Linked DNA regions of Homo sapiens. The protein of the gene in region 4 purifies or fractionates together with the protein of the main gene of each other region. This does not show direct contact. Each region holds a gene or a part of one and is shown on either strand. Other genes may lie near its edges. The genes, in order: PPP1R2, CRYBG3, PRUNE1 and GSK3A.

Region 1 (6,847 bases), on a different chromosome or scaffold from region 4:
TTAGGGTCCTTTCCTGCATTTTTGTTGGTGAATCTGGTGTGTAAAATGGCTCCCAAGTGTAAAGGGCTATTTGGTATTGGCTGAATTTGTGGAGGGGGCCAACTGTATATTTATTGTTTCTGTTCAAAGAGGATCTCATAAAGTTTGCATGACTTGTGACAAATAATAATGTATATTTGGTATGGTTTGAACGTTTGTCCTCTCTGAAACTCACGTTGAAACTTGATCTCCAATGTGGCAGTGTGGAGAGGCACAGCTTTTAAAAGGTGACTGGGTCATGAGGGCTCTGCTCTGATGAATGGATTAATCTATTCACGGATTAATGGGTTATCAAGTGAGTGGTTCTGGTGGCTTTATAAGAAGAGGAAGAGAGACCTGAGCTGGCACGCTCAGCTTCCTTGCCATGTGATGCCCTGCACCACCTTGGAACTCCACAGAGTCCCCACCAGCAAAAACGCTCTCACCAGATGCACCCTTAAGACCCTGGACTTCCAAGCCTCCAGAACCGTAAGAAATAAATTCAGTTTCTTATAAATTATCATTTCAGACATTCTGTTATGACCAACAGAAAACAGACTAAGACTATATTGTATTACTAGTAGAATTAGTTTATTTGCTTTACAGTCACATAACAAGGATCATTAAAAAACCCATCCTTTTTACCACTTGGAACCAAACATCATGAACTTCAATGAATTAGGGTTTGATAGTTCTCTTTAAAGACAGGACTGTAACTCTAACTCGACAGGTCAGTCCCTTTTAAGTGAATCTACCCTGCCACAGATACTACAGAAGAGGCAGCCCTATGCAGTTGAGTCAGTCTAGTATAGTGGCTTTTGAGGCAGAAAGACCTGAATGTAAATCCCAACCAATTACAGAAAGAAAGAGGCCAATCCATAGATTGGGCCCACGGGAAATTACAGCAGATCCAAGTTAAGAATAAACAGAAACTAAAGAAGCAGAGATAAAGAGTAACTCACTTGGTAAATGGACCAAAAGAAACTCACACTGGAGAACAGCTAAATAACATAAATGCCAGTAAGGACCACATTCCTGCTGCTGAAAACCCTGAAGCTACATTTGAGCCTTCTGTAGTTACGTTACTTATCTTTTAATTCCTTTTCTTTTCTTTCCTTTTTTTTTTTTTTTTTTTTTTTAAGAGATGAGGTCTCATTATGTTGCCCAGGCTGGTCTCAAACTCCTGGGATCAAGCAATCCTCCCACCTTGGCCTCTCCAAGTGCTGAGATTACAGGCGTGAGCCACCACGCCTGGATGTTATTTATCTTTTAACTAACTTGGTTCTCCTGCTTCAGTTATGTTCTGGTGAAATTCTGTCTTCTTAATTCCATGACCTACACATCACACTCCCCCAGCACTCCATTTAACGTGGCTTAGCCCAAAGAAGTTGGAAAATTGTGTGTGAGAGAATGTAAGATTCAAGCATCCATGAGCGTGGGAGTTGCTAGACAAAAACTAAGGTCCTTTCCAGCCCCAAAAGGCCACGATTCTAACCTATGAACCTACTCAATATTTCCTTCAAGGTAACACAAATCCCTAAAATTTACCACCACCAAGCAGTAGTTCCTTTTATGGTCCTAAATAAGATCCTTTATCCAGGAATGCCCTAGGTTCCTATATTCTGAGATTTCACAAACATCCTCATTTTAGCTTCTGACTACCAATTTCAATGGTAACTTTTCTTAAGCCTTATTTTCAGAAAGTAGAGTCCTTCTATTTTTAGTATCTTGCAACGCCCAAGCCCCCGTGCACTTCTAACCCACTACAGATACTGTACTGCAACATTTTCTCCGTGCATAAACGCCTACCTTTCTTTTTTTAAAGGCTAGTATATTGTTCCATTATACAAACGTACCGTAATTAATATTTCACCAGCTCTTACTAATGGACTTCCGGTCGTTTCCAATTATATTATAAATATTACATACAATGCTCAGGTCAACAACTTTTTACATGTGTATCTTTAGCGTATGCAAGAGCAACTAAATTACCACTGGGTCATTTCAAGTTGCTCCTCTTTGAACTGTTTTGAGCTTAGATCTATCTCTGAACAGGAACAAAAACTAGAAAGCACCCAAAACTCTGGTTGCAGATGCAGAAATACAGTGTGGCACAATGCTAATGGGGGAAATGGTCTCTTCTTTGACGGATCGCCTATTAGCTTGAGACTAGATCTTAAAGGGTTCCCAAAGCAAGAAAATACACTGTAATTATCGAAGAATTTTAGATACCTCAGAGATGAGGTTAAGAAATAGTAAAAGCTTAACAGTCGAAGATCTGAAGCTTCAATTTCATTCTTTGATGTTCCCGATTACAGAAAGTTCAAAGATGATGTTTAAAAATATTATATATGCCCAAATGCTTAAAAAAAAAAAAGGAAGCATGATAAACGTCATCGCCCAGCCTTCTTAAAGATCGCTCCCACCCGCGGCTAGCCGGGCAGGAGAAGAGACTCGAGCGGCACCCGAGCCGCATCCACGCCGCCCGCCCGCCCCTGGGGTCTGGGTAGGTAACGGGCCCGGCGGGAAGGAGGGGCTCCCAGGCCGTCCCTCCCAGCGCTCACCTCAGCTCCTCGTCGACATTCCCGCGGGGCTGTTCGGCCGACGCCACCATAGAGGAAGTCGTAGAGGTCTTGTTCTTCAAGATCCCCTTGATGGGCCGGTGCGAGGCCGTCGAGGCCGCCATTGCCGGGCGCTCCGGCTGTCGGCTCAGGGTCGCTGCTTGGCGTGGGGTCCGCGAAGAGAAGGGTCGGCACAGCAGAGACTCGCAGGCAGCCGCAGATCCCGCTCAGGGCTAAAGCGGCCGCAACTGCTGCCTCGGAAACGGCTACCGCAGCGGTTGTCACGACACAACGACCCCGACGCCAGAGCCAACGCCGAACGGGTGGCGGCTACTCGCGCACCCTTAGCCACTGGCACTTGACCCGCGGCTCGCGGAGAGACGCCGGCCTAGAGCTCCAGCGCAGGAGCGACGCGACGCCGAAGCCAAGCGGACCCGCCCTCTCGCGATATCTAGGGAGGAGGCGGGGAGAGGGCGGGGCGAGAACAAAGCCGACCTCCTCGCCCCGCCCCCTCCGTCCCGCCCGGGCTGCTCGCCCCGCCCCCGCGCGGCGCTGGGAGGCGGGAGCTGTCTCTGAGAACCTGCGGGAGAGCGCCCGGGCTTGCTGCTTCCCGGACCCGCGCGTCTCTCGAGCACCCTCGTCCCACCACCTTGTGAGGCCGTAGTGTTATTTTTATTTTTTAGATCAGCAGACTGAGACTCGAGGTGACGTCACTCCGCAGAGAGGTTAGCTGACTTGAAGAAAACGGGTATCTCCTCTTTCCATTTCGCCCGTGTAAACAGCCGAACTGCCTATTATAAAAGCATGGACTGCCAGCATTGGAGTGGTCCTTAGAGGCCTATTATGAAATCATAGAATGTCTGCATTGGAATCGCCTCACCTCCTTTTACCGCTGGAGAAGCCGACGGACAGACGGGCAGCGACCCCCGCCGTCGCACAACCCGTCTAGGCAGAGAGCGCAGGAGACGGGAGGGCGGCAGGGACACATCTCCCAGCCAAGGACCTCCTGGGCCCGCAGAGGCCGCGACAGGTTCCCCCCACAGAGGGAACCAACTCTGCCGCAGGTTGATGTGGACTTCAAGCCTGCAGAACGGAGAGCCCATTTCCATTGCTTAAAGCCACCTCGTGTGTGGTATTTGTTATGGTCCCTGTACACTCCCTTCCCTCCCTCTCCCAAGTCCAGTCCGCAGCTCGCTCATCACCAGGCTCTTTTCCATGACTCTTTCTTGATCAGGCCTTTTTATCGTCCTCACCACAGGTTAGAGCACAGCAGACTGAGCCACCCAGAACTGGCCCCTCCGGTGGACCAGCCCCTGCGGATTCACAGACCACTGGTCCTGGAAGGGACCTTGTCAAGCAGGCCCATAAGGTGGCTATTCAGCCTGTTTCTCCAACAACCCCAGGGGCTAGAAGCCCGCCACACCCCCGTGTAACTCATTTTGTTTTTGGACAGCTCTGACTCTGGGAGTTCTTAGATTGAGCTGACACCTCGCTCCCAGCAATGTCTGTCCACTGCTGTGGGGGGTGAGAGGAAGCGTTTTCCCCTATCTAGCCCCTATAGCAGCAGTTTCACTCCCATGGCTCATCTCTGGACCACAGTCTCATCTTCTTTAACACAGGCTCTGTGCCTTTTGAGGATGACCCTGTTCTGTGTCCTTAGGACTCTGCCCCTCAGGGATGACTGTAGGGTTCTGAAAACGATTGTTTTTATCGTCTGGCCCCGAGCCCCTAGCTCCTAGATGAGTTCCTGGCACAGAACAGGGCCTCAGTATGGGAATGGATGTGGATGGAGATAATGGAGGGGAAGTGAGCTGGAAGGGGAGAAGGGAAACAGGGTTGCTGGTCACAGAGTGGAATGTGTTCCCCAGGGATTTGCCTCAGCCAGGGGCCTGCACAGTCACTGTTGGCACTGTCCCCACCTTTGTTCCCAGTCAAATATCCACTGGTGCCGTCTCTCCCTCCCAGGCCAGGACTGCTCAGTGGATCTAACATTACACCCTGACAGCCCTGTCCAGCCCATGGAGCAGAGAGAGAGGGTTCTCAGCGAGGGGAAGCAGGATGGCCACCTCCCTTCCCTTCCTGAGTTCTTTCCACCCCAGTGTTCAACACCTGTGTTGCGTCTCCTGCCCTGTCAGCAGGAGTCTAGGTCAGTGATGGCAATCCTGTTTTCAAGGGAATACACAAACTTCCCTGTATGTTCCAAATTATTGGGCAGATTTGCTTTGTTCCTGCTTGGGCTGGGAAGCATCACTGAGTTCAGCATCCCTGAACTCAACTGTGACTGGGCCCTTGATTAAGCAACAGCTTGCTTTCAGACCCTCTAATGAAAGGGACTACGATCGTATGACATAAAGTGTTTTATTAGTTAATTAACTAACAAACATTGGAACAGGAGGTGATGAAGAGTTCTCTGAAGAACCTTGGAAACATATTTCCCTCATCAAGAGTTAAACTTTTGTCTCCTGTACTGGTTCTTCCACTCCCAAACCCACAACAAATGAATGCAGATGAAGATGACTTTGGTAGCACTTAAAAAAAAATAGTTTGTAAAATTGTGAGGGCCAGTACTGCTTTTTTTTTTTTTTTTTTTGAGACAAAGTCTTGCTCTGTCGCCCAGGCTGGAATGCAATGGCACAATCTCCACTCACTGCAACCTCTGCCTCCTGGGTTCAAGTGATTCTCCTGCCTCAGCCTCCCGAGTAGCTGGGACTACAGGTGCCTGCCACCACACCCAGCTAATTTTTGTATTTTTAGTAGAGATGGGGTTTCATCATGTTGGCCAGGCTTGTCTCAAACTTCTGACCTCAGGTGATCTGCCCGCCTCAGCCTCCCAAAGTGCTGGGATTATAGGCATGAGCCACCACACATGGCCTGCTTTTCCTTATCTTTCAGAATAGTTGAACTACTTTATTCCTCAGTGTGGCCCAAATAAGATTTTCAAATGCCTCTAAACAGAGCTCTCCTTCTGTGCCTCTGCTGAGGTTTGCTCCTGTAGGAAGTTATCTGGACCAAACAGCCCGAGCACTGAATTTAGCTGTATTGCTGTTACATTTCCTGTGTGTTGAGGGTTTGGCTGCCAGGAGGTGAATTGTAGATAGAATCTTTCATTCTGGTTTCAGTTTCTGGAAGTAGCTATTGAGCTCAAGGCAAATCATATATTTAAAGATATATACATGATTTAAGGATAATCTGGCATTTATCTCTGCTCTCTTTTTGAAGACTTCATTATCATGGTTGCCTGACCCAACACAACATATTTGGAGGAGGAGAGGGGACACTTTTATTGTACCCCATCACGTGGCTGAGTCATTTGGCTCTCCATTCACTGGAACAGACGACTATGGACACCACCATTGGGTTTCCCACCAAGGACAGAGTTCCAAAGCAACAGTGGCTTCCATGGTTGGCTCACCCAGCCTGCCTGAGTCATCAGCTAGGTCCACAGAGTAGAGAAGTGGGTAGTGCCCCCGCCTAACATCTGGAAAAATTCCCAAAAGTTGTGACTTCATGACCACTGAGTCAGCAGCAACTCTTTTCTTGCCAAGAATAGCACATTGTTCTTTTCCTTTTCAGGTAATCCCTCCCCGGAAAGAGAAGATCACAGATTTTGTCATATTAAATACATTGTAGAAATTCATGGTAGCAGGGGCAAGATCATTTAAACAAAACAGAAAGTTTCAGAGAGAGAAAAAGCCAAGGACAAAGATTAATCATTTTTCTGCTTAAAAAAAATGGCTTTGATTTGCAACCATGGAATGCTCCACTGTTTCTCTTCTCTTCAAAGACATCTACTGAAAGGATTCCTTAACCTTACCAAGTGGCCAAAATACTTTTCTGAGAAGAGTCACAGAGCATAGGCCCCCCTAGGGTACACAGAGATTTCATTAGTCCCTAGATGTTTCCTGATCCTTTTAAAAACTGGTTAAATTCAGAGACTCTAGGCAATTACTTCTTTCAGAACCTGTGAGGCAAAAACGAAAGAAGAAGGCAGGACACGCAGTGTAACAAACCTTGGAATGGTAAGTAGGAAATATGAGTTAGTTTTTTGGCTAAGCTATGAATTTACCTTGTGCCTGCCAGAAATCACTCAGTCTTTTGTGACTGTAAATTTTCTGTAAGTGTTAATTGGTTTGGTTTATTATTGCAAGAAGCAAGGGAGCAATGTTGTGTATTATAATTTCATTGTGTCAATTTTGCCAAATTATCTTGCATTTTGTTATTCTATGAACTCATAATGGGATAAGGAGTATAGGCTTTGATTCAGAACA
Region 2 (7,026 bases), on a different chromosome or scaffold from region 4:
TCTTGGTTAACACGTAACAGTGCAAGTTTGGCCATAGGTTATTTATTTGTACTTTTTTAGTTTGAAGGACTGAGGAAACAATAGCTACAGAAAATACTTCTTGTGCCTTATTCCTAACAAAGCTGAGGTCCCTGCCTGGGGTTAGTTACAAGTATAAATACTTAACGAGGTGCGTTCATTATAAAAGCCTCAGTATAGAAACCTTAAAGTTTATCTAGGAAAGTTTAGTATATTTTCAGGTGTTGCTAAAAAATTACTCATCTGTTTGCAAAAGTATGACTTGACCTATAGAAATCTGTTTCTTTATGCTTTGTACTCATACAAGCATCTAGGTAGGATATTAATAAATAATACAGGATAATAGCATCACCAGTGTCCAATAACGGGCCATCAGGAACAGGATTCACGTTTGGTGGATATGAGAGAAAATAAACACTTCAGGAAACTTGCTCACCACAGCTGGAGATCAGGAATAGAACCTTTCCAAGATATCATAATATTTTCTTTATAGGAACACTGAGTAATGGCAAGAATATTTTGAGCTTTTCCATGGTTAAGAGCGATAGTCTCAGAGGCTGGAGAAAATGTTCATTCTGCTCAGTGATCCAGGAGTGTGAGGACAGTAGCTTCCTTTCCACGTCCACAAGACAATGACAGATGTGTTTCCTTCTTTGCTCTTTCTAGGGATCTTTCTAGGGATGTTGATTCTCTCACAATATTTCAATGTCCCATTTCTGTGTTTCTTCTCCCTCCAGGGGCTGATTTACAATTACATGAGTCTTGTCACAATAATTTCCTCCTAAAATAGAAATTCCAAAAGAAAAGATTATTTGTTCAGGCAGGTGCTTAGCAATTTCACAATTTTCACAAGCTTCTGTTCAGCTCACCATTTCGGTGGATGAATGTGTCATTTACAAAGAAGTCTGAAATGGGAAGCTGAGTTTGAACAGGCTTAGCCATTATTCACCTCAAATTGGACCTTATTATGACTCAAATTGAAATACTAAAAGGTATAATACATGATTGTATAAGTGGCGTGCCTTAATGTGATTCTTTAGAACAAAGTGCTCTTGAGAGAACTCTGGCTGAATGTCAGGTACTGTGTTTTTGTTTCTACACCAACAAAACTGTGACTAACCCAATTAAAGCAACAGCCATGAATAATATTGGCCCTGACCTTGCTGAATTCAAAAACAAGGTTAATTGATACCTACCATAAATTCTACCTGAGGGTTTTTAAGGACCATGGCAATTCCTGGCAAAAAGCTAGAGATGTTTCTAAGAAACAGATGACATTCATTTCATGGTTTATGGTGCTTGAAATTTAGAACTGTTCTGAGTTCACGTAGCAAATGAAAGTTTTACAACTGTACTAATGAACAAAAACCCTAAGCTTTGTTGTTTGGCTTTTTCTGCTAATTGTTTTGTTTGTAAAACTGCCTATCTTAATTTTCTTCAAGCATAATTTTAAATGACTTAACATTTCTCTTATACATAAGGATGTCCTTTACCCAAAATGAGGAGATTTGGAACTGAAACTAATATCCAGGGACACAACATTGGGTATCATCAAAGGCCCACCTTTAACATCAAGGACAAGTTGATCACTGAGATAAGAGCTGATAGTTCCATTTTTATTCAGTCTCCACTTCTGCCTGAATTGCCCATGTTCAGTCCATAGAGCTACTTTAGCTCCAGGTGTGTCCCGGCCACCAATCACATCAAGACATGTATCACTGGCCTAAAAGGGTTAAGAAATGATTAATTGGCAGTAGTATGTTTGCTAAAGTAAGTTGAATTAGGTCCCTTTTATCTTAGGTAAACAAGTCATAGACATGAAGTGTGTGTGTGTCTTATCTAAAAAAATACTATATAGTATAATTTCAGTAAGCCTTTTTTAATGTCTTCTTTACGGCTGTGGGTAGGAGATGGTACAGAAATAAACCAACTGAAATAGAGGTACTTGTTTTTAATAGGATGTCTACATCTGACAACAGATGTTCAATAAAGATTTGGTGAATTGGAATTAAATGTTAAATCCCTGTTTGCTTAAAACGTATTATGTTGAGCTTGGTTTTCTTATGAAAACATTGCATGATGGGCTAAAGATATCCAGACAATAATTACTTTTAAAAGTTTTTCATTTTTGAAGCATGAGAAAAAGTAGATAATCCATTGGTGATACAATAAAACACAGTTTGAATGTTTTTAAAGTAGTGTTCTATTCCCAATGCATTAAACATAACGGAAGGGTCATAGAAAAGAACCCTAAATTTTATTTTCTAAGCTTCTTCCAATAACAGCTTTCTTCTTCTACTGCTTCTTTGTATACTTTGAAAATGAAAGGTTTCAACATATTTAGAATCACAGAGATGGCTGATTTTATCTGGGCCATCAAGTAAGGAACATCTTACAAAAGCACATTGTCCAACTTAGATCTGGTGACTTATACCATTGGTTGTAAAAAATCACTTAGGTATATCCATAATATGTGATAACCTTTGTGTTTACTTAAAAATTGAAACTGGATTTTCTTGTTCAAAAAATTAAGTTAATTTTATATAAATGTTTTAGTAATATATGGCAGTATTTTTATAATCAACACCTGTTTCTAAGAAGTTGCATTGTTTTATCATGCCAGTTGATTTGACAGGATTCTAGTTTTCAAAATAAAAAACAGACCAGAAAGTGGCATACTGTATCAGTGGGATTGCTTACCTTGGATTTAAAGAGTCCTCGGCAGTAGTACCAGATCTGAGTATTCTTTCCACTATAGGGAGAAATGCACACAGATGTTGCCCTGGTGTCTGCTAGACTTCCAGTGACTGTCAGATATTCACCCTGGGCACGGTTCTTTATTCTGATGTACACTGCAGGCTATGACAGGAGAAACAGCCATTTAGAAATAAACTTTTGAATCTGGAAATGAATCCTTCCAGAGGAGGAAAGCTGGGAGGGAAAGTGAGAGGTAACTATCTTAGTTATATCAGTTTCACTCTTATTCCCTTTAGTAAATCTGCATAGATTAATATGGTAAATCCTTAGGCCGTGGAGCATAAAGCTTAAATTGTACAGTCTCTATTACACTTTGTGAAAAGTGCCCTTTTGAACAGCATGAAGTAAAAGTTTCTTTCACTAGAATTCCATGTGGTGAGGAGTGGGGTGGTAAAGAATTAGGGACTTGATGAGTTTCATTCAATAGTGTGTCCCAGCTGTGCTGAGGGAGGTAGGGGAGTTATTACCTACAAGGATTTTCTAAAAACTTCAGAAAGACATACTGTGGAGCTATGACTAAATGCCATAAGTTGGCCCTGGGAGGTCTTGAAAAACCCAGATAGCTGAGGGCACTAGTAGCTGTGATTATTTGTTTATATAAGACCTTTATTTCTTCAAAAGTAGAGACCATGTATGTTTAATGACTATACTTAGGTACTCAAAAATTGTGTAACAAAGGACTTCATCCCCTTGGCCTGGAAGTTTTAAGATACATACAAAAAGTTTTAAAATATTAAACCTGGGACTTGCCTCTAAGGAGAATAGCTAATATTTATTGAACACGTAGTATGTGTAAGCAGCATGCTAAATGCATTCTGTGCCATTATGTTATTTGTCAGAATAACCACAAAAACCTATTAAGAAAGTACAATTATACCCTAGTTTTACAAATAAGGTGAACACAGATGTAAAGAAGCCAGGTTCCTCTTAACCAGGATGCTCTCAGACCTATGTTGAAATGCACTAGTTGCTCTTAGGCACAGGGAATAAGAGACGAATTCCAAAGGTGGCAGTGTAGGACAATGAAAGAGCAGGGCACATAATGGAAGCACAACAGAAGCCATTATTTCAGCCCTATGACTTAGGCCTCCAGCCTTAATGTAATAAATGACACCCAACATGACACCCAACATCCCCACCTTTGGTTCTTCTCATTGCCATCCCAATTAGAACCCTGGCTGAGTAATAACAAATGGTCTCTTAAGAGAGCACTTTCATGCTAAGAAACATAAGTGCTTAGGTAAATGCAATAGGTCATATGGTAAGAGAACCAATGAACAGTCTACTGTTTTTGAAACTTGATAGATCAACGTGAAGCTAACTGAATTTTGGTAATTAAACCTTCCTAAGGAAATACACATTCTCAGCACTTAAGCCAATAGAAGGACAAATTATCTGGCCATTTAAACCAGGCGAACAAGCTCTCTACTTGGCAAAATGTTTTAAATGTTTCAAATCCCTACTTCCAACATTAACAATGCAACAGTAGTGTACTTAAATGTCTATAATTCAGCCGGATCTACTGCAATTATTAATTCTTGAGGCTTCAGTATATCTTTATTACATTTTCATTACCTTGTACATATAAGAAAACAGGCGTGACCTTCACAGATGACAGAGTTCCAATTACTTTAGGACCAGACATCACAGTTTTAATCAATTAACTCAGGCAAGGTACTAATTACCCTTATTACACATTTGTAGTCTGACTGCTCTGTAATTATACTTAAAAACACTGATATACATTATAAGTACCTTAGTGACTTCCTAATTCCCAGCCTCAAAGAGGATCACATTTTAATTAGTCCTGAATTTCTAAACAAGAATATGAACCAAAGCAGTACCAACAGCCTTACCACAAATTTAAATGTGACCCACAAACTACTATTTTAGAAACTCAGAATTCCTTTGTTGGATTTCAAAACTGTGACCTAAATAAACAAAAGGAAAAATAATCTATTAAAATATTATTTTGAAATTAAATGTTTAATCAGAATAGGAATCAGGTAGCTCCTAACGCACAGTGAAAGAAAATAGCATACTATTCTTGTTAAAAAAAACTTCCTTGTAAAAGTAGAGGTGGCTGTTCTATCCTTTACCAGACAATCTTGAACAATAGGCAGGGACATCCTTCTTCCCCAACAAGGAACCACCATTAAAAAATGAGGAACATATTTTCATTGTTGAACTTGGCTACTAAAGTCTCTAACAACAGAGGGTCAGCATTATTATGTAGTTAGTAAAAGCTAAACTGAATTCCTATCTCTACTTTGCTTTTTCTGATGGCTTTTCAGTGGGCTTACTCCCTGTTCCACATGATAGGAGTGGGGAATAAGCAAGATGTAAAGGTCATGAGATCGTCTACCACACACTCTGTGCCAGGAAAGCCATTAATGTTTCAGTATCCCTCAAAAGAGCATCTCAAGGGACATTGTGAATAATAATAATAATAAAAAATTTTCAAAATAAGTGTATTACCATAGTAATATGAGCCAGAGCCATATCAGACTGTTCATATACATTATCTTATTCAACCGTCACAGCAATGAGATGTAAGCAATGTGATCACTGCTTCACCAGTGAGAAACCTAAGGTGCCAAGAAATGAAGTGACTCACCAAGCTGCACTGCTTACAAATGGCAGAGCCAGGATTTGAACCAACAGAACTCATGAGTGGTGGGATGAGAATGGTGTGTGTGCATGTGTGCATGTGTGCATGTGAAGAGGGTGAGAGAAGACCAATTAGGTTAATATTTTATTGGCTACCATTTATTTAACACTTAAGTAAGGGTTAAATAAGTGTCAGGTCAGAACATCAGAGCCTCAGCATTTAGATCCACTAGGCTATATTCAGCTCAGTGCCTGAAATAGGTGGTACTCTCTAAGTGCTGATCTTAGGCTGATGGAAAGTAGAGTGTGGTTGCTTAAGAACACAGATTTTAAAGCATAGTAGATTTGGGTCCAAATCCTGGTTCTGACACTTGATGTGCTTTTATTGTCACAGGTAGGAATCATTATCCCCATTTTCCAGATGGAGCCTTATTCTTCTCTCAGAGCCTTATTATTCCAACTAGAAAATGGGGATAATAATTCCTACCTCAAAGGACTGTTGTTGGAATCAAGCAAGAAAGTGTTCTAAAGAGATTAGAGAGAGGTACTAATGCCATATCCACGGGCCATCACACCCCTGACAGTTTCACTTGGGTTTTCCACCTTCCATGAAACCTCCCCACTACTCCTACACATGTTGATACTTCCTTTCTCTGAACCAGGGACTGCCTGTGGCTTTTGGATAATTATGCATTGTTTTGCATTTTATGTTACTGCTTTGAGTTGGACATGTTTTACCCAACAAAAATGTAAGCTTTAATAATATTGGCAGAAATCGCATCTATCTTTATATTTTCCATTATACTTTGCATAATATCATTGATCCATCCACTGATATATTCATTCCTTCATTAAATAAATAGTTCCTCAGCTCCTACAATATTCCAGATATTGTTTCAGGCACTAGGGGTAGAGCAATGAGCAAAACATGGACAGTCCTTGACTTCACAGGGTTTTCTATAGAGTGGGAGAGACCCCGATCCAACCATAACGCTAGGGTTATAAACTGCATACAGTGTTTTTGTAGAAAAAGAACCCCCAGGTCTTTTATGATCTAATGTAGATTGGGAGAGAAGGTGGGGGAGGCATTCTTGAGGACCTGACACTTAAGTAGAATTTACAGGGATGACTAGTCAAATAAAGAATGAGGGAAGAACACGATACAGAGGGTGCAGCCCATGTTAAAAGTCTTAGTGGGAAACCACTCTGTACTTTGATGCCTGTGACACAACCATGTGAAAGATGAGGTTGGAGAAGCAAGGTGGGGTAGCGGGTAGATTGTATTCTAAGTGCAGTGGGAAGCTTTTGAACAGAAGACTGACAAGCAGTAGGTGTGCAATAAATACTTATTTTAATTAAATTGCCAGGATCCATCCTGAGTATTATATAAGTAGGGAGGGGAATATCCAAATGCTTAGAAATTAAAACTAGTACAGTATCAAAGTTCATTCCTGTTACCAAGGTTTGCCACAGAACTTACAGTATCTTAGTTTTCCACGAAAAGTGAACATGGCCAATGAGGCTTTGGACTGAAAACTGAAATCCAATGTTGACTTTAGATACAATCTTACAAATTGGTTAAAATGTACAAGATATCCGCATCCTAATTCACTCCCCCTACTATGTAAATGGCAAACTAAA
Region 3 (7,026 bases), on a different chromosome or scaffold from region 4:
CCAGAACATATATAACCTTCACACCAAATGGACACACACAAGGAGATTTGTATAGCAAAATCTCTGAAAGCAAAATGAGAAACTGGGATGGACAGTGTCCTCAGACCTCCCAAATCCAAACTAAAATGTAGGAAGGGAAATGGGGAAAAGGTAGAAAGAAAGCCTGAGCATCTCAAACCTTGGAGATTTTACAGCCTAGTCAGACAGAGATACACCTCTTCAGTAGGCCAAATCCCATCAAAGAATCTTCTAAGTTGGAAAAGACAGTCTAGTCCAACTCACTCTCTCTCTCTTTTTTTTTACAAGTGGAAAAATGAGAACAAGAAAGGTTAAGAGATTTGCTCAAGGTCACCTATTTCCTGGAGGAATTGGTATTGGAATCTGTTTCCTGCTTCTTTAGCTAATCCTCCTTCCATCATAAAATGATGCCAATAGGAAGCTTCTTGGTCTGTTGCCCTGCACTTCCTTTCTACTTTCTCCAACAAGTATCCCACAGGCCTTTAAACACATGCTCAATTGTCCCCTGAAAGAATCCTATCTTTTGGTATGAGCTGAATGGCTCTGAGAGCATATGGTTAGGCTGGAAGCGTCTAGACTTTTCCACCCTCCCTTCTCAGGGACAGGAATAGAACTACTGAGGTCCCAATCCAAAAGCCACCCTTACCATGCAGAAGGGCTGCAGTTTGCCTGTCCAAGATCTCTGGTGCCCCCTGCAGGATTCTCTCGGTCACCAGGGTAGCACAGGACCCCACCAGCTCAACTGAAACATGGCAGGGAGGGCAGTGTTTCGGCTCGATGGGTCGATGGTCTAGCACCTCTGCTACTGCCTCCTCTAGGGCTGTGTCACTTCTGTGGAGGGGAGGGTATGGGAAAAGAGGAAGAAAGATAGGTACGGACACTCCAGCTGCTTCTAGCCAACCTCTACCCCACACATCAAGGAAAATGCAGATGTCTTTTTTTTTTTGAGACGGAGTTTCACTCTTGTCGCCCAGGCTAGAGTGCAATGGTGCGTTCTTGGCTCACTGCAACCTTTGCATCTCGGGTTCAAGCGATTCTCCTGCCTCAGCCTCCTGAGTAGCTGGGATTAAAGGCGCCTGCCAACATGCCCAGCTAATTTTTTTGTATTTTTAGTAGAGATGGGGTTTCGCCATGTTGGCCAGTCTGGTCTCAAACTCCTGACCTCAGGTGATCTGCCAGGCAAGCATTTAAAACTGACCTTTGGTTACTTTTACCTCTGCCTAACTCCTCTCAATTCTTTTTTTTTTTTTTTTTTGAGACGGAGTCTCACTCTGTTGCCCAGGTTGGAGTGCAATGGCACGATCTCGGCTCCTGCAACCTCCACCTCCCGGGTTCAAGTGATTCTCCTGCCTCAGCCTCCTGGGTAACCAGGATTACAAGGCACGTGCCACCAAACCCGGCTAATTTTTTTTTTTGTATTTTTAGTAAAGATGGGGTTTCACCATGTTGGTCAGGCTGGTCTCGAACTCCTGACCTCGTGATCTGCCCGCCTTGGCCTCCCAAAGAGCTGGGATTACAGGCGTGAGCCACCGCGCCCAGCAATTCTTTTCTTTAATGTTATAATTGGAGTCATCTTTAAATAGTGTATAAGCAAATTCTGTGAAGCATCTGCTGCAAATATCTTACCCCCACATTTGCTGTCCTTTAGCGTTGCCTTTCCAACCCTATACCCTTGACACCCTTGATACCCAACATCTAAATTTCTCCTTTTTTTTTTTTTTTCTAAGACGGAATCTCGCTGTGTCGCCCAGGCTGGAGTGCAGTGGTGCAATCTTGGCTCACTGCAACCTCCGCCTCCCAGGTTCAAGCAATTCTCCTGCCTCAGCCTCCTAAGTAGCTGGGAGTACAGGCGCCCACCACCAGGCCCAGCTAATTTTTGTATTTTTAGTAGAGACGGGGTTTCACCATATTGGCCAGGCTGGTCTCGAACTCCTGACCTCGTGATCCGCCCGCCTCGGCCTCCCAAAGTGCTGGGATTACAGGCATGAGCCACCGCGCCCAGCAAATCTCTCCTATTTTTATAACCCACTCAATACTTAGATTCCATGTGGGTCACCAGGTCCTGTGAATTCTATCTTAATTCCTATCCATGCCCTAGTTTCTAACTCTCTGTTACTGCCCCACTCTAGGCCCTCAATATCTCTCGTCTGGACTATTCCAGTAGTCTCTTAACCAATCACCTGCTTCCAACCAAGAGCCCTCCTGGGCTGTCCTTCACAAAGTGGCCTGAATGATCATTTGAAAAAAGAAAATCTGATTCTTTTAGGACCCAGAATATAATTTAAAATAGTTCCCCACGGCCTAAAATAAAATCCAATCACCTTAGAAGGGCCTATGAGGCCTCCATAATCTGCCTCCTGCCTGCCCCCTCTGTCTCATCTTTTTCCATGTCCTACTTCTCCCTCAAATTTTATGCTCCAGCTGTGCAAAACAAATTCCATTTCCCCTAGCTCACCATGCTATTTCACGCCTGCCTGCATTTGATTCTATTAATTACTCCCTCTGCCTGGAATGCCTTTCCTAACCACCTTCCCTCCTCCCTCCCAATTCACCAAGCAAACACCTAGTCCTCTTTCAAGACTGAGATCAGTGCTCACTTCAGCAGCACATGCGCTAAAATTGGAATGACACAGAGAAGATTAGCATGGCCGCTGAGCAAGGATGACATGCACATTTGTGAACTGTTCCATAAAAAAAAAATATATATATTTAAAATAAAAAATAAAGGCTGGGCATGGTGGCTCACATCTGTAATCGCAGCACTTTGGGAGGCCAAGGCGGGCGGATCACGAGGTCAGATCGAGACCATCCTGGCTAACACGGTGAAACCCTGTCTCTACTAAAAATACAAAAATTAGCCAGGTGTGGTGGCGGGCACACCTGTAGTCCCAGCTACTCGGGAGGCTGAGGCAGGAGAATGGCGTGAACCCGGGAGGCGGAGCTTGCAGTGAGCCGAGATCGCGCCAGTGCACTCCAGCCTGGGCGACAGAGCGAGACTACGTCTCTTAAAAAAAAAAAAAAAAAATTAGCCAGGCCGGGCGTGGTGGCTCACGCCTGTAATCCCAGCACTTTGGGAGGCTGAGGCGGGCGGATCACTTGAGGCCAGGAGTTTGAGACCAGCCTTGCCAACATGGTGAAACCCCGTCTCTACTAAAAATACAAAAAATTAGCTGGGTGTGGTGGCGCATGCTTGTAATCCCAGCTACTTGGGAGGTTGAGGCAGGAGAATCACTTGAATCTGGGAGGCTCACTGCAGTGAGCCGAGATGGTGCCATTGCACTCCAGCCTGGGCAACAAGAACAAAACTCAGTTTCAAAAAAAAAAAAAAAAAAATTAGCCAGGAATGATGCTTTTACACAGGAGGCTGAGGCGGGAGGATTCCTTGAACCCAGGAGCTCAAGGTTATGATGATGCCGCTGTACTCTAGCCTAGGAGACAGAGCGAGAGAGACACCATCTCTTAAAAAAAAAAAAGGTGGTGGCACGGTGGCTCATACCTGTAATCCCAGCACTTTGGGAGTCCGAGGTGGGCGGATCACCTGAGGTCAGGAGTTGAAGACCAGCCTGACCAACATGGTGAAGCCCCATCTCTACTAAAAACACACACACACACACACACACAAAATTATCCCGGGAGGCGGAGGTTGCAGTGAGCCTAGATTGCACTATTGCACTCCAACCTAGGCAACAAGAGAAAACTCTGTCTCAAAAAAAAAAAAGAAAAAAAAAGGAAAGTTTATTACTGAATGAATCCATAGATGGATAATGCTCTCTCAGGCTGCCTTCTGTCAGTATCCTGCTATAACCACAATGTGCTCAAGAAAAAAATATTAGCAGGAGCCAAACAGACTTAGGAAAGTCACATAATCGTGTTGCTTTTTTGGTAGTTTTTTCCAGTAGTAAATTAGGGATGGAATTATTATAAATGTGTACATTTGTTAAACAGACATTATTGAGATATTTATAGATTAAAAAAAATTTTTTTTTGAGACGGAGTTTCGCTCTTGTTGCACAGGCTGGAGTGCGATGGCATGATCTCGGCTCACCGCAACCTCTGGCTCCCATGTTCAAGCAATTCTCCTGCCTCAGCCTCCTGAGTAGCTGGGATTACAGGCATGTGCCACCACGCCTGGCTAATTTTGTATTTTTAGTAGAGATGGGGTTTCTCCATGTTGGTCAGGCTGGTCTCAAACTCCTGACCTCAGGTGATTCTGCCCGCCTCAGCCTCCCAAAGTGCTGGGATTACAGGCGTGAGCCACCACGCCCGGCCTGGCTAATTTTTTTTTTTTTTTTTTTGAGACAGAGCATCACTCTGTCGCTCAGACTGGAGCGCAGTGGCGCGATCTTGGCTCACTGCAACCTCCACCTCCTAGGTTCAAGCGATTCTCCTGCCTCAGCCTCCCAAGTAGCTGGGACTTACAGGCGCGAGCCACCACGCCCAGCTATTTTTTTTTTTTTTTAAGATGGAGTCTTGCTCTGTCGCCCAGGCTGGAGTGCAAGTGGCATGATCTCAGCTCACTGAAAGCTCCGCCTCCCGGGTTCATGCCATTCTCCTACCTCAGACTCCCGAGTAGCTGGGACTATCGGCGTCCGCCACCATGCCCGGCTAATTTTTTGTATTTTTTAGTAGAGACGGGTTTTCACCATGTTAGCCAGGATGGTCTCCATCTCCTGACCTCATGATCCGCCCCCCTCAGCCTCCCAAAGTGCTGGGATTACAGGCATGAGCCACCGCGCCTGGCCTGAGATATTTATATATTCTAACATAATACATTATTCTAAAATCGTAAGAGTTTATGTAGAAAAACTTTTGCTAACTTTTTGTGTGCTTTTAAATTTTTTTGTAGAGATGGGATCTCACCATCTTGCCCAAGCTGGTCTTGAACTCCTGGGCTCAAGCAACCCTCCTGTTTCACCCTCCCAAAGTGCTGGGTTTACAGGTGTGAGCCACCACACCTGGCCCTTTTGATAACTTAAAAAAATTTTTTTGGAGACAAGTTCTTGCCCTGTCACTCAGGCTGGAGTACAGTGATGTGATCATGGCTTACTGAAGCCTCAATTCCTAGGCTCAAGTGATCCTACCACCTCAGCAGCCTCCTAAGTAGCTGGGACTACAGGCATGCACTACCACACCTGGCAAATTTTTTTATTTTTAGTAGAGACAAGGTCACACTATGTTTATAGATTTTTGTATTTATTATTTTTTTTTAGAGAACAGGGTCTCGCTATAGTGGTCAGACAGGTCTCCCTAAGTGCTGGGATTACAGGCGTGAGCCACCACACCAGGCCACTTTTTAAAAATTAAAAATAGGCCAGGTGTGGTGGCTCACGCCTGTAATCCCACCACTTTGGGAGGCCAAAGTGGGCAGATCATCTGAGGTCAGGAGTTCCAGGCCAGCCTGGCCAACAGCGCAAAACCCTGTCTCCAGTAAAAAATATAAAAATTAGCTGGGCATGGTGGCGCGCACCTGTAATCCCAGCTACTCAGGAGACTGAGGCAGGGAGAATCGCTTGAACCCAGGAGGCAGAGGTTGTTGCAGTGAGCCGAGATCACACCACTGCACTGAAGCCTGGGTGACAGAGCAAGACTCCATCTCAAAAAAAAATAATTAATTAAAATTAAAATTAAAAATAGAGTTGCAGGCCAGGTGTGGTGGCTCACACCTATAAACCAGCACTTAGGGAGGCAGAGGCAGGAAGATAGCATGAGCCTAGGAATTTGAGATCCGCCTGGGCAATATAGCAAGACCCTCTTCTCTAAAAAAAATTTAATAAGTAAGTACAAAAATAAATAATAAGTAAAAAAATAAAAAGAGAATTGCAAACATTTTTCAAAGGTTTCTATTACAATAAATCTGTCTCAGAATCTTTTTTTTTTTTTTTTTTGAGACAGGGTCTCCCTCTGTCTCCCAGGCTTGGAGTGGAGTGGTGTGATCTTGGCTCACTGCAGATTCGACCTCCTGGGCTCAAGTGATCCTCCCACCTCAACCTCCCGAGTAGCTGGGACCATAGGCATGCACCACCGTGCCTAATTTTTAAAAATTTTTTGTAAAGACATGGTTTTGCCATGTTGCTCAGGCGGGTCTTGAACTCCTGGAGCTTAATGGATCTGGCTGCCTTGGCCTCCCAAAGTGCTGAGATTACAGGCGTGAGCCATCACACCCGGCACACAAAATCTTAAATAATGATACCAAAGGCAGATTTAAATGATTTTTGAGTTACCCTTTAGTTTGAACTCAACACGTTCTATTTCTTTTTATTATAGGGTATGTCTATATGCCACAGACATACATATAACTGCAGAACTGACAATATTTTGTGTTGTTTTTCTATATCTAATATGACCTATCAATTATGATTAGCCTATGAGATCCCTGAAAGCAAAAACTCTTTCTTTTTTGAGACGGAGTCTGGCTCTGTCGCTCAGGCTGGAGTGCAGTGGCACGATCTCGGCTCACTGCAACCACCACCTTCCAGGTTCAAGTGATTCTCCCGCCTCAGCCTCCCAAGTAGCTGGGATTACAGGCACTTGCCACCACGCCCAGCTAATTTTTATATTTTTAGTAGAGACGGGGTTTTGCCATGTTGTCCAGGCTGGTCTCAAAATCCTGATCTCAGGTGATCCGCCCGCCTTGGCCTCCCAAAGTGCTGGGATTACAGGCATGAGCCACCATGCCCAGCCAGCAAAAACTCTTTCTTCCTCTCTTTATATCTCACTCATCAGAGCCCAGCATGGTACATGATAGGTAGCAATTTAATTTCCTTGTGCTTACTTGGATAAGATATGATGGTCGACAAGGATGAGGGTGAGTTGGCCAGCCTGGTATAATGCATGGAGGTCAATCTCATCCCGAAAAATCAAGATACTCTCTGGAATATGAACCTTCTGAAGAAAGAAGACAATGTCACCTCGCAGAGGTAGTTCAGAACGTTTTATATTTAAAACTGGCACAAAGACTTCCTCAGCCTCAGTTGTCTAGATAGGAAAGTGAAAAGAAGGTATCACAAG
Region 4 (7,026 bases):
CCAGTCAAGGCTGGAATCTGATTCCCAAACCCTCTACCTTAACCATTTGGTTACACTTCTTCCCAGGAGAGAAAGGGACCTGGCAGGGCTAGCGCGGGTGGTTCTGAAGGTCGCGCTCTTCCCAGGTGTTTGGCCAGCGCAGAATGGAATGGAGGTGCCCTGTGAGCTAGGAGAGGCTCAGGGAACTAGAAGGAGATGGAGGAAGTGGAAGTTGAGGAATAATTGGTGTTTAAGGGCCTGGCATTTGGAGCTTAGACTAGTCTGGATGTAGGAGAACTGAGCCTAGACTGGAAAGGAACCAGACCAGGGCCTCGGTCTTGGCAGGGAGGGCCCTTGGGCAGGAGGAGCTCCAGGGTGTCAGAATTTGATTGGAGTTGAGTTCCAGAAGTAAGAGGGATGTAGGGGCAGGGAGTTCCTAGGCCTCACTGAGGAATAGAGAATGGGGAAGAATGCTGAGACCGCATTCTGGGAAAAGTCCAATGCCTGGAGTCTGGGACTCAGGATCCTAGATAGAGTTCGAGGACCCAGATGCTTCCACGGGACCAGAGTGAGCTGGATGGCCACTACCTGTCTGTTGTTGCTTGTGCCAGGTAGGGGGGCAAGCCTCATGTGCCCATGCCTGATTTTTTTTTTTTGAGATGGAGTCTTACTCTGTCACCCAGGCTGGAGTGCAGTGGCACGATCTTGGCCCGCTACAACCTCTGCCTCCCAGGTTCAAGCGATTCTTGTGCCTCAACCACCTGAGTAGCTGGGATTGCAGGCATGGGCCACTATGCCTGGCTAATTTTTTTTTTTTGTATTTTTAGTAGAGACAGGGTTTTGCCATGTTGGCCAGGCTGGTCTCGAACTCCTGACCTCAAGTAATCCGCCCCCACCTCGACCTCCCAAAGTGCTGGTATTACAGGCATGAGCCAGCATACCTAGCCCTGATTTTTCAAGACAAACTGAAAACTGGATTTAGATGTGAAATCTTTTTTTTTTTTTTTTTTTTTTTTTTGAGACGGAGTCTCATGCTGTCACCCAGGCTGGAGTGTGGTGGCGTGATCTCGGGTCACTGCAACCTCCGCCTGCCGGGTTCAAGCGATTCTTCTGCCTCAGCCTCCCTAGTAGCTGGGACTACAGGCGTGTGCCACCACTCTCGGCTAATTTTTTGTATTTCTAGTAGGGACGGGGTTTCACCGAGTTAGCCAGGATGGTCTCTATTTTTTTTTTTTTTTTTTTAAGACAGAATCTCGTTCTGTCACTAAGGCTGGAGTGCAGTGGTGTGATGTCGGCTCACTGCAACCTCTGCCTCCTGGGTTCAAGCGCTGCAACCTCTGCCTCCTGGGTTCAAGCAATTCTTGTACCTCATCCACCTGAGTAGTTGGAATCACAGGCGTGCGCCACCATGCCCAGCTAATTTTTTTGTATTTTTAGTAGAGATGGGGTTTTGCCACGTTGGCCAGGCTGGTCTCGAACTCCTGGCCTCAAGTGATTTCCCTGCCTTGGCCTCCCAAAGTGCTGGGATTACAGGGGTGAGCCACCATGCCCAGCTGTTTTTTATTTTATTTTTATTTTAAGGCTGGGTATGGTAGCTCATGCCTGTAATCCTTGAACTTGGAGAGCCCGAGGCAGGAGGATTGCCTGAGACTAGGAGTTCAAAACCAACCTGGCCAACATAGCCAGGTTCTTTTAAAAATAATAATAATAATAAATTTTATCTTATTTATTTATTTATTATTATTATTTTTTGAGACAGAGTCTGTCGCCCAGGCTGGAGTGCAGTGGCGCGATCTCAGCTCACTGCAAGCTCCGCCTCCTGGGTTCACGCCATTCTCCTGCCTCAGCCTCCCGAGTAGCTGGGACTACAGGTGCCTGCCACCATGCTTGGCTAATTTTTTTTGTATTTTTAGTAGAGACAGGGTTTCACCGTGTTAACCAGGATGGTCTCAATCTCCTGACTTCGTGATCCACCCACCTCAGCCTCCCAAAGTGCTGGGATTACAGGCGTGAGCCACCACGCCTGGCCCTGGCCTATCCTTTTTAAAACTTTATTTTGGAGAAAAAAATCAGAAGGTGCCATTTGGCTTTTACATGTCAGCAATAAGTTGAAAAAAAATTTTTTTTTAAGTGGGGTGGCTGGGCGCGGTGCCTCACGCCTGTAATCCCAGCACTTTGGGAGGCTGAGGCCTGTGGATCATGAGGTCAGGGAGGCTGAGGCAGGTGGATCACAAGGTCAGGAGATCGAGACCATCCTGGCTAACGTGGTGAAACCCCATCTCTACTAAAAATACAAAAATTAGCTGGGCGTGGTGGTGCATGCCTGTAATCCCAGCTACTTGGAAGGCTGAGGCAGGAGAATTGCTTGACCCAGGGAGGCAGAGGTTGCAGTGAGCCGATATTGAGCCACTGCATGCCAGCCTGGCAACAGAGCAAGACTCTGTCTCAAAAAAAAAAAAAAATGGGGTGAAGAAAACACATCTGTGGCCTGGGTTTAACCTGTGGGCTTCCAGCTCCTGTGGGAGGGGAATAGTCTGGAGACAAGGAATTGGGGGATACTCCAGGGGACCTTGGAGCTGGGACACAGGGAGTAGCTGCCTGGCTGTTGTTGGGAGTGAGTGTGAGTAGGGAGGAGCAGCCGAGAGAGTTGGTTGTATTCTGAGACTCTCCCTTTGCCCTCAAGAACCGAGAGCTGCAGATCATGCGTAAGCTGGACCACTGCAATATTGTGAGGCTGAGATACTTTTTCTACTCCAGTGGCGAGAAGGTGAGATCTCGAGGTGGTGGTGGTGGGTTGCTCCAGCCATTTTCCTGCCTGCCTGCCTTTCCCCCACTGCTCCCTGCATACCTTCCTTCCCCCTCCTCACTCTTCTCACAGTGCCTCACACCTCTCCTTTGCTCCCTGCAGAAAGACGAGCTTTACCTAAATCTGGTGCTGGAATATGTGCCCGAGACAGTGTACCGGGTGGCCCGCCACTTCACCAAGGCCAAGTTGACCATCCCTATCCTCTATGTCAAGGTAGGCCAGCAGGTGGGCTGCTGGGACCCAGGCCCACAAAGCCAGGGGCTCTGGAGCCTCCTGCCTTTTATGGGATCCCTCATCCGCCAAGTTTATGTTGGTTTTTGGAGGCCCCATGTCCCCTGCTGTTGTTCCCATAACCCCCCGAGATGGAGCTCGCCTAACACAGGGGAGGGCCAAGGCAGGCAAGGCCTGACTGAATCAGGAAGGCAGCCTGACACCTGGGGTTGCAGAAGCTGCCAGGTAGTTGCTCAGGTCCATACAGGGAGTCCAGTGGCACCAGAGATGTTGGAGTTAGCTCAGGATAAGGGGGTGGTGGGGACCAGGACTGCACAGAGACAGCTGCTGAGGCCAGAGTTCGGGCCTTTAGAGCCTTGGCTGGGGGTAGGTGGGAAGGAGTTAGGGCTGGAGGAAGGTTAGCATCCACAGAGCCAGGAATGCATCTCCGTCCATCATCTGTGCAGGCTCATTCCCCAGTGCCTGGCATCGTGCCCTGGGTGTTACAGACCTTCAGGAGGTGTTTGAATGAATGAATGAATGATTGCAGCCCAGGGATGATGTGGCGAACAGGCTGGAGCAGCCTACTGCATTGGAAGGAGGTGGGTGGGTTTGTTTGCTGAAGGTCACTTGGGGCCCAGCTGCTGCTCCTGCTGGCTTTACGTACCAAGCACGGGTGAGCCGACGTGGGCTCTACCAGTGGTTGTGGCTGTTGGACCTCACTTCCCAGGAGGGGAGCTCTCTGGTTTGGCGAATCTGTCCTGTGGCTGCCTGCATACGGGTCCCAGGGCTGAGGAATTCCAGAGGCACCACTGACTGCGACCCAGGCCTTGGCCTTGAAGAGCTCTCAGTTTGGTAGGGTAGAAAGGCGTCATCACAGAAAACTATTAAATGAACTAGCTGCTGCCATACCAGAAGGAGCACAGGGAATTCTGGAAATGGAGGAAGCACCCAGCCTGGTTTGTGGGTGAGAAGGATCAAGGAAGGCTTCCTGGAGGAGACCAAGCACAGGGCAAGGAAGTGGCATCTTTGGCCGAGGGGAACTGGAATAAAAGGAAGGGGGCCTAGGAAGCAGCCATGTCAGGACCTGGTCTGTCTAGGCCCTGGGGGATGCAGCAGTAACTGAAACTCAAAATCCTGCTCTCACGGTACTTCTGTTCTAGTCAGTGGGAGGGAGAGTGGCAGGAAAATGGAGCTGGAGAGGGGGCAGGCTCAGGGGTGGTTTTGATTGTCGGATTAAGGAGCCAGTGGTTTTGGTGAGGGGGAAGCTGAGTGCCTGGCTCCCTAGCCTGTTTTATGACAACCTCCCGATGTACCTTACTCATCAGGCTTCTGCCAAGGGTTGTGATTAAAGCAGTGGTTCTCAGAGTGTGGTCCGGGGACCAGCATCAGTGCTGGAGAGCTTGTTGCAAATGCCTCATTCAGAACTCACTGATCAGAAACTCTAAGAGTGGGGCCCAGCAGTCCCTTTTTTTTTGTTTTTTTTGAGACAGGGTCTCTGTCACCCACGCTGGAGTGCAGTGGTGCGATCTCGGCTCACTGCAACCTCCGCCTCCTGAGTTCAAGTGATTCTTCTGCCTCAGCCTCCCGAGTAGCTGGGATTACAGGTGTGCACCACCACGCCCGGCTAATTTTTGTATTTTTAGTAGAGACGGGATCTCAACATGTTGGCGAGGCTGGTCTTGGCCTCCCAAAATACCGGGATTACAGGCGTGACCCGCCACGCCCAGCCAGTAGTCCCTGTTTTAACAAGTCCTTCAAGTGATTGTGGTGCACATTAAGAGAACCAAGGTTTCAAATGGGTTTCCCCAAAGCTGTGGGGGCAGCAGGGAGAGTGGGCCTGGAAGGGCTCTTCAGGCCAAGCTGGTGGGGTAGTGGTGCTGTATGGGGAAAGCTGGGCTAAAGTTCTGCTATCCTGTGCCCGCCGCAGGTGTACATGTACCAGCTCTTCCGCAGCTTGGCCTACATCCACTCCCAGGGCGTGTGTCACCGCGACATCAAGCCCCAGAACCTGCTGGTGGACCCTGACACTGCTGTCCTCAAGCTCTGCGATTTTGGCAGGTGGGCCTGGGGCATGTTGGGTGGCTGAAGAGGCAGGGGGGACCCCAACCCTTGCCTCACGTGTACCCCTGCCCATCTCTTCCCACAGTGCAAAGCAGTTGGTCCGAGGGGAGCCCAATGTCTCCTACATCTGTTCTCGCTACTACCGGGCCCCAGAGCTCATCTTTGGAGCCACTGATTACACCTCATCCATCGGTCAGAGTTATGGGAGGGTGGCGGGGGGAGTGGCAATCTGGGAAGTTTTGGAGTTTTCTGTGTGCTGTATGCCAAGCTTGGTGATGAAAGCTTAACTTCTGTTCTTGTATCCAGTCCTCACAAACTTAGGAGGCTGATGCTGTTGAATGCTAATTTTACAGATGAGCTTAGAGCTGTGAGGCCGCCTGCCCGCACTGGCACCACTAGGACTGGGCAGGACTGGGATTTGAAAGCTGACCTGACTCCAGAGTCCATACCAGCTCTGGAACCTCCCTGTCAGCCCTCTGTTCTCAGCTAGGGGGAAGGGCTGCTGGAGACCTTGGGGGAACCGGGAAGCAAGGCTTTGCCACCATGAAGGTGCAACTTGCTCCCAGGGCCTCTGTGTCCTTCCCTGTTTGTGGGGACAACTGCCATTTTCCAGGCATGAGGGGAAGTCTGAATTGAGGGAATGGGCATGAGAGTTTGAAAGGGCACCTTCCACAGCAGCATGACGAACTGTGGAGTCCTTAGGTATGAACTCGTGCTGTGGGGGTCAAGGTACAAAGCAGGGAGGGGTGAGACTGCCACGCTGCAGCTCTTCTCATGGGCAGGAGAGAGGCTGGAACAAGAGGAAGGCAGTCCAGGATTTAAGGCTGTACCTTCCTGTGGCCCAAAGAACATGGGTGCCTGTTGGCAGGTTTGGGCCTAATTTGGTCTGTCGTCCAAGGCTAGCGGGAGAGAAGGAGCTCATTGGGGTCCTTAGCAGAGAGAGGAACTGAGGGCTGGAAACACACCTAGACTAGAGAGTACAGCAAAGGCAGGGTCAAGGTCGGGCCCATGTTTCTAAGCTGCATGTGACCTTGGGCCAGGTGCTTTGTCTTTGAGAAAACGGGGCTCCTGACACTCTTAGGATGGCCATGAGGAATAAAAGCATTGGGAGGTTGGTGGCCCTACTCGCCTAGCCCTGACGCTCCCTCCATTTCCCCTCAGATGTTTGGTCAGCTGGCTGTGTACTGGCAGAGCTCCTCTTGGGCCAGCCCATCTTCCCTGGGGACAGTGGGGTGGACCAGCTGGTGGAGATCATCAAGGTGAGGGGCGGGGCTGGGCTGGGCAGGGGGTGGGGCTGAGGGATGGGGCCCTTGTCTCAGACCCCTCCCTCTCTTTACAGGTGCTGGGAACACCAACCCGGGAACAAATCCGAGAGATGAACCCCAACTACACGGAGTTCAAGTTCCCTCAGATTAAAGCTCACCCCTGGACAAAGGTGGGGCAGGGCTAGGGGCTCAGGGCAGTATGGCTGAGAGCTGGTCCCCCTTGGAGGTCAACTGTTCTGTGGACCTAGCCTCAGAATCACGGCTTGGGAGGATTTGAAGAGTTATCCAGGGATCAATAACATCCATCCGCTTTCAAAGTTTATGGCATTTTAAAAGTTGAGAACCCACAAGTAAATTCAAGATTCCAATTTTTATGGAGGGTCAGCAGGGCTCATATAGTCCCAGACCTGGGCTGCCTGCTTACCCGATACAAACTGACCTCTCCTTAGTGGTTGGGCCTTAGTTTCTTCATTTGGAAGGTGGGGGTGTGGGAAGCAACCAGTCATAACTTGCCGCAGGCACTGTGGCAGTGAGATAACAGGAGTATGCCAGTGTCCAGGGCATCTCACCCTCATGAGCCCTGCACCCATCCCTCAGGTGTTCAAATCTCGAACGCCGCCAGAGGCCATCGCGCTCTGCTCTAGCCTGCTGGAGTACACCCCATCCTCAAGGCTCTCCCCACTAGAGGCCTGTGCGCACAGC

Evidence for each region.
Region 1: the proteins of GSK3A (region 4) and PPP1R2 purify together in Homo sapiens (affinity purification with mass spectrometry; 5 studies listed by BioGRID and IntAct, with this or other methods). This does not show direct contact.
Region 2: the proteins of GSK3A (region 4) and CRYBG3 purify together in Homo sapiens (affinity purification with mass spectrometry; 2 studies listed by BioGRID and IntAct, with this or other methods). This does not show direct contact.
Region 3: the proteins of GSK3A (region 4) and PRUNE1 purify together in Homo sapiens (affinity purification with mass spectrometry; 3 studies listed by BioGRID and IntAct, with this or other methods). This does not show direct contact.

Annotation. Positions count from the first base shown.
Region 1 is NC_000003.12:195,540,322-195,547,168, forward strand, and holds the start of PPP1R2 (protein phosphatase inhibitor 2), read right to left. Parts: upstream 3,005-6,847; 5' UTR 2,705-3,004; coding exon 2,583-2,704; intron 1-2,582. UniProt on the Homo sapiens protein: Inhibitor of protein-phosphatase 1.
Region 2 is NC_000003.12:97,936,999-97,944,024, reverse strand, and holds part of CRYBG3 (very large A-kinase anchor protein), read right to left. Parts: intron 2,878-7,026; coding exon 2,719-2,877; intron 2,208-2,718; exon of another isoform or gene 1,742-2,207; coding exon 1,582-1,741; exon of another isoform or gene 800-1,581; coding exon 711-799; 3' UTR 1-710.
Region 3 is NC_000001.11:151,018,434-151,025,459, reverse strand, and holds part of PRUNE1 (exopolyphosphatase PRUNE1), read right to left. Parts: intron 6,994-7,026; coding exon 6,791-6,993; intron 850-6,790; coding exon 665-849; intron 1-664. UniProt on the Homo sapiens protein: Phosphodiesterase (PDE) that has higher activity toward cAMP than cGMP, as substrate. Plays a role in cell proliferation, migration and differentiation, and acts as a negative regulator of NME1. Plays a role in the regulation of neurogenesis.
Region 4 is NC_000019.10:42,232,578-42,239,603, reverse strand, and holds part of GSK3A (glycogen synthase kinase-3 alpha), read left to right. Parts: intron 1-2,662; coding exon 2,663-2,746; intron 2,747-2,887; coding exon 2,888-2,998; intron 2,999-4,925; coding exon 4,926-5,056; intron 5,057-5,144; coding exon 5,145-5,251; intron 5,252-6,220; coding exon 6,221-6,318; intron 6,319-6,398; coding exon 6,399-6,494; intron 6,495-6,921; coding exon 6,922-7,026. UniProt on the Homo sapiens protein: Constitutively active protein kinase that acts as a negative regulator in the hormonal control of glucose homeostasis, Wnt signaling and regulation of transcription factors and microtubules, by phosphorylating and inactivating glycogen synthase (GYS1 or GYS2), CTNNB1/beta-catenin, APC and AXIN1.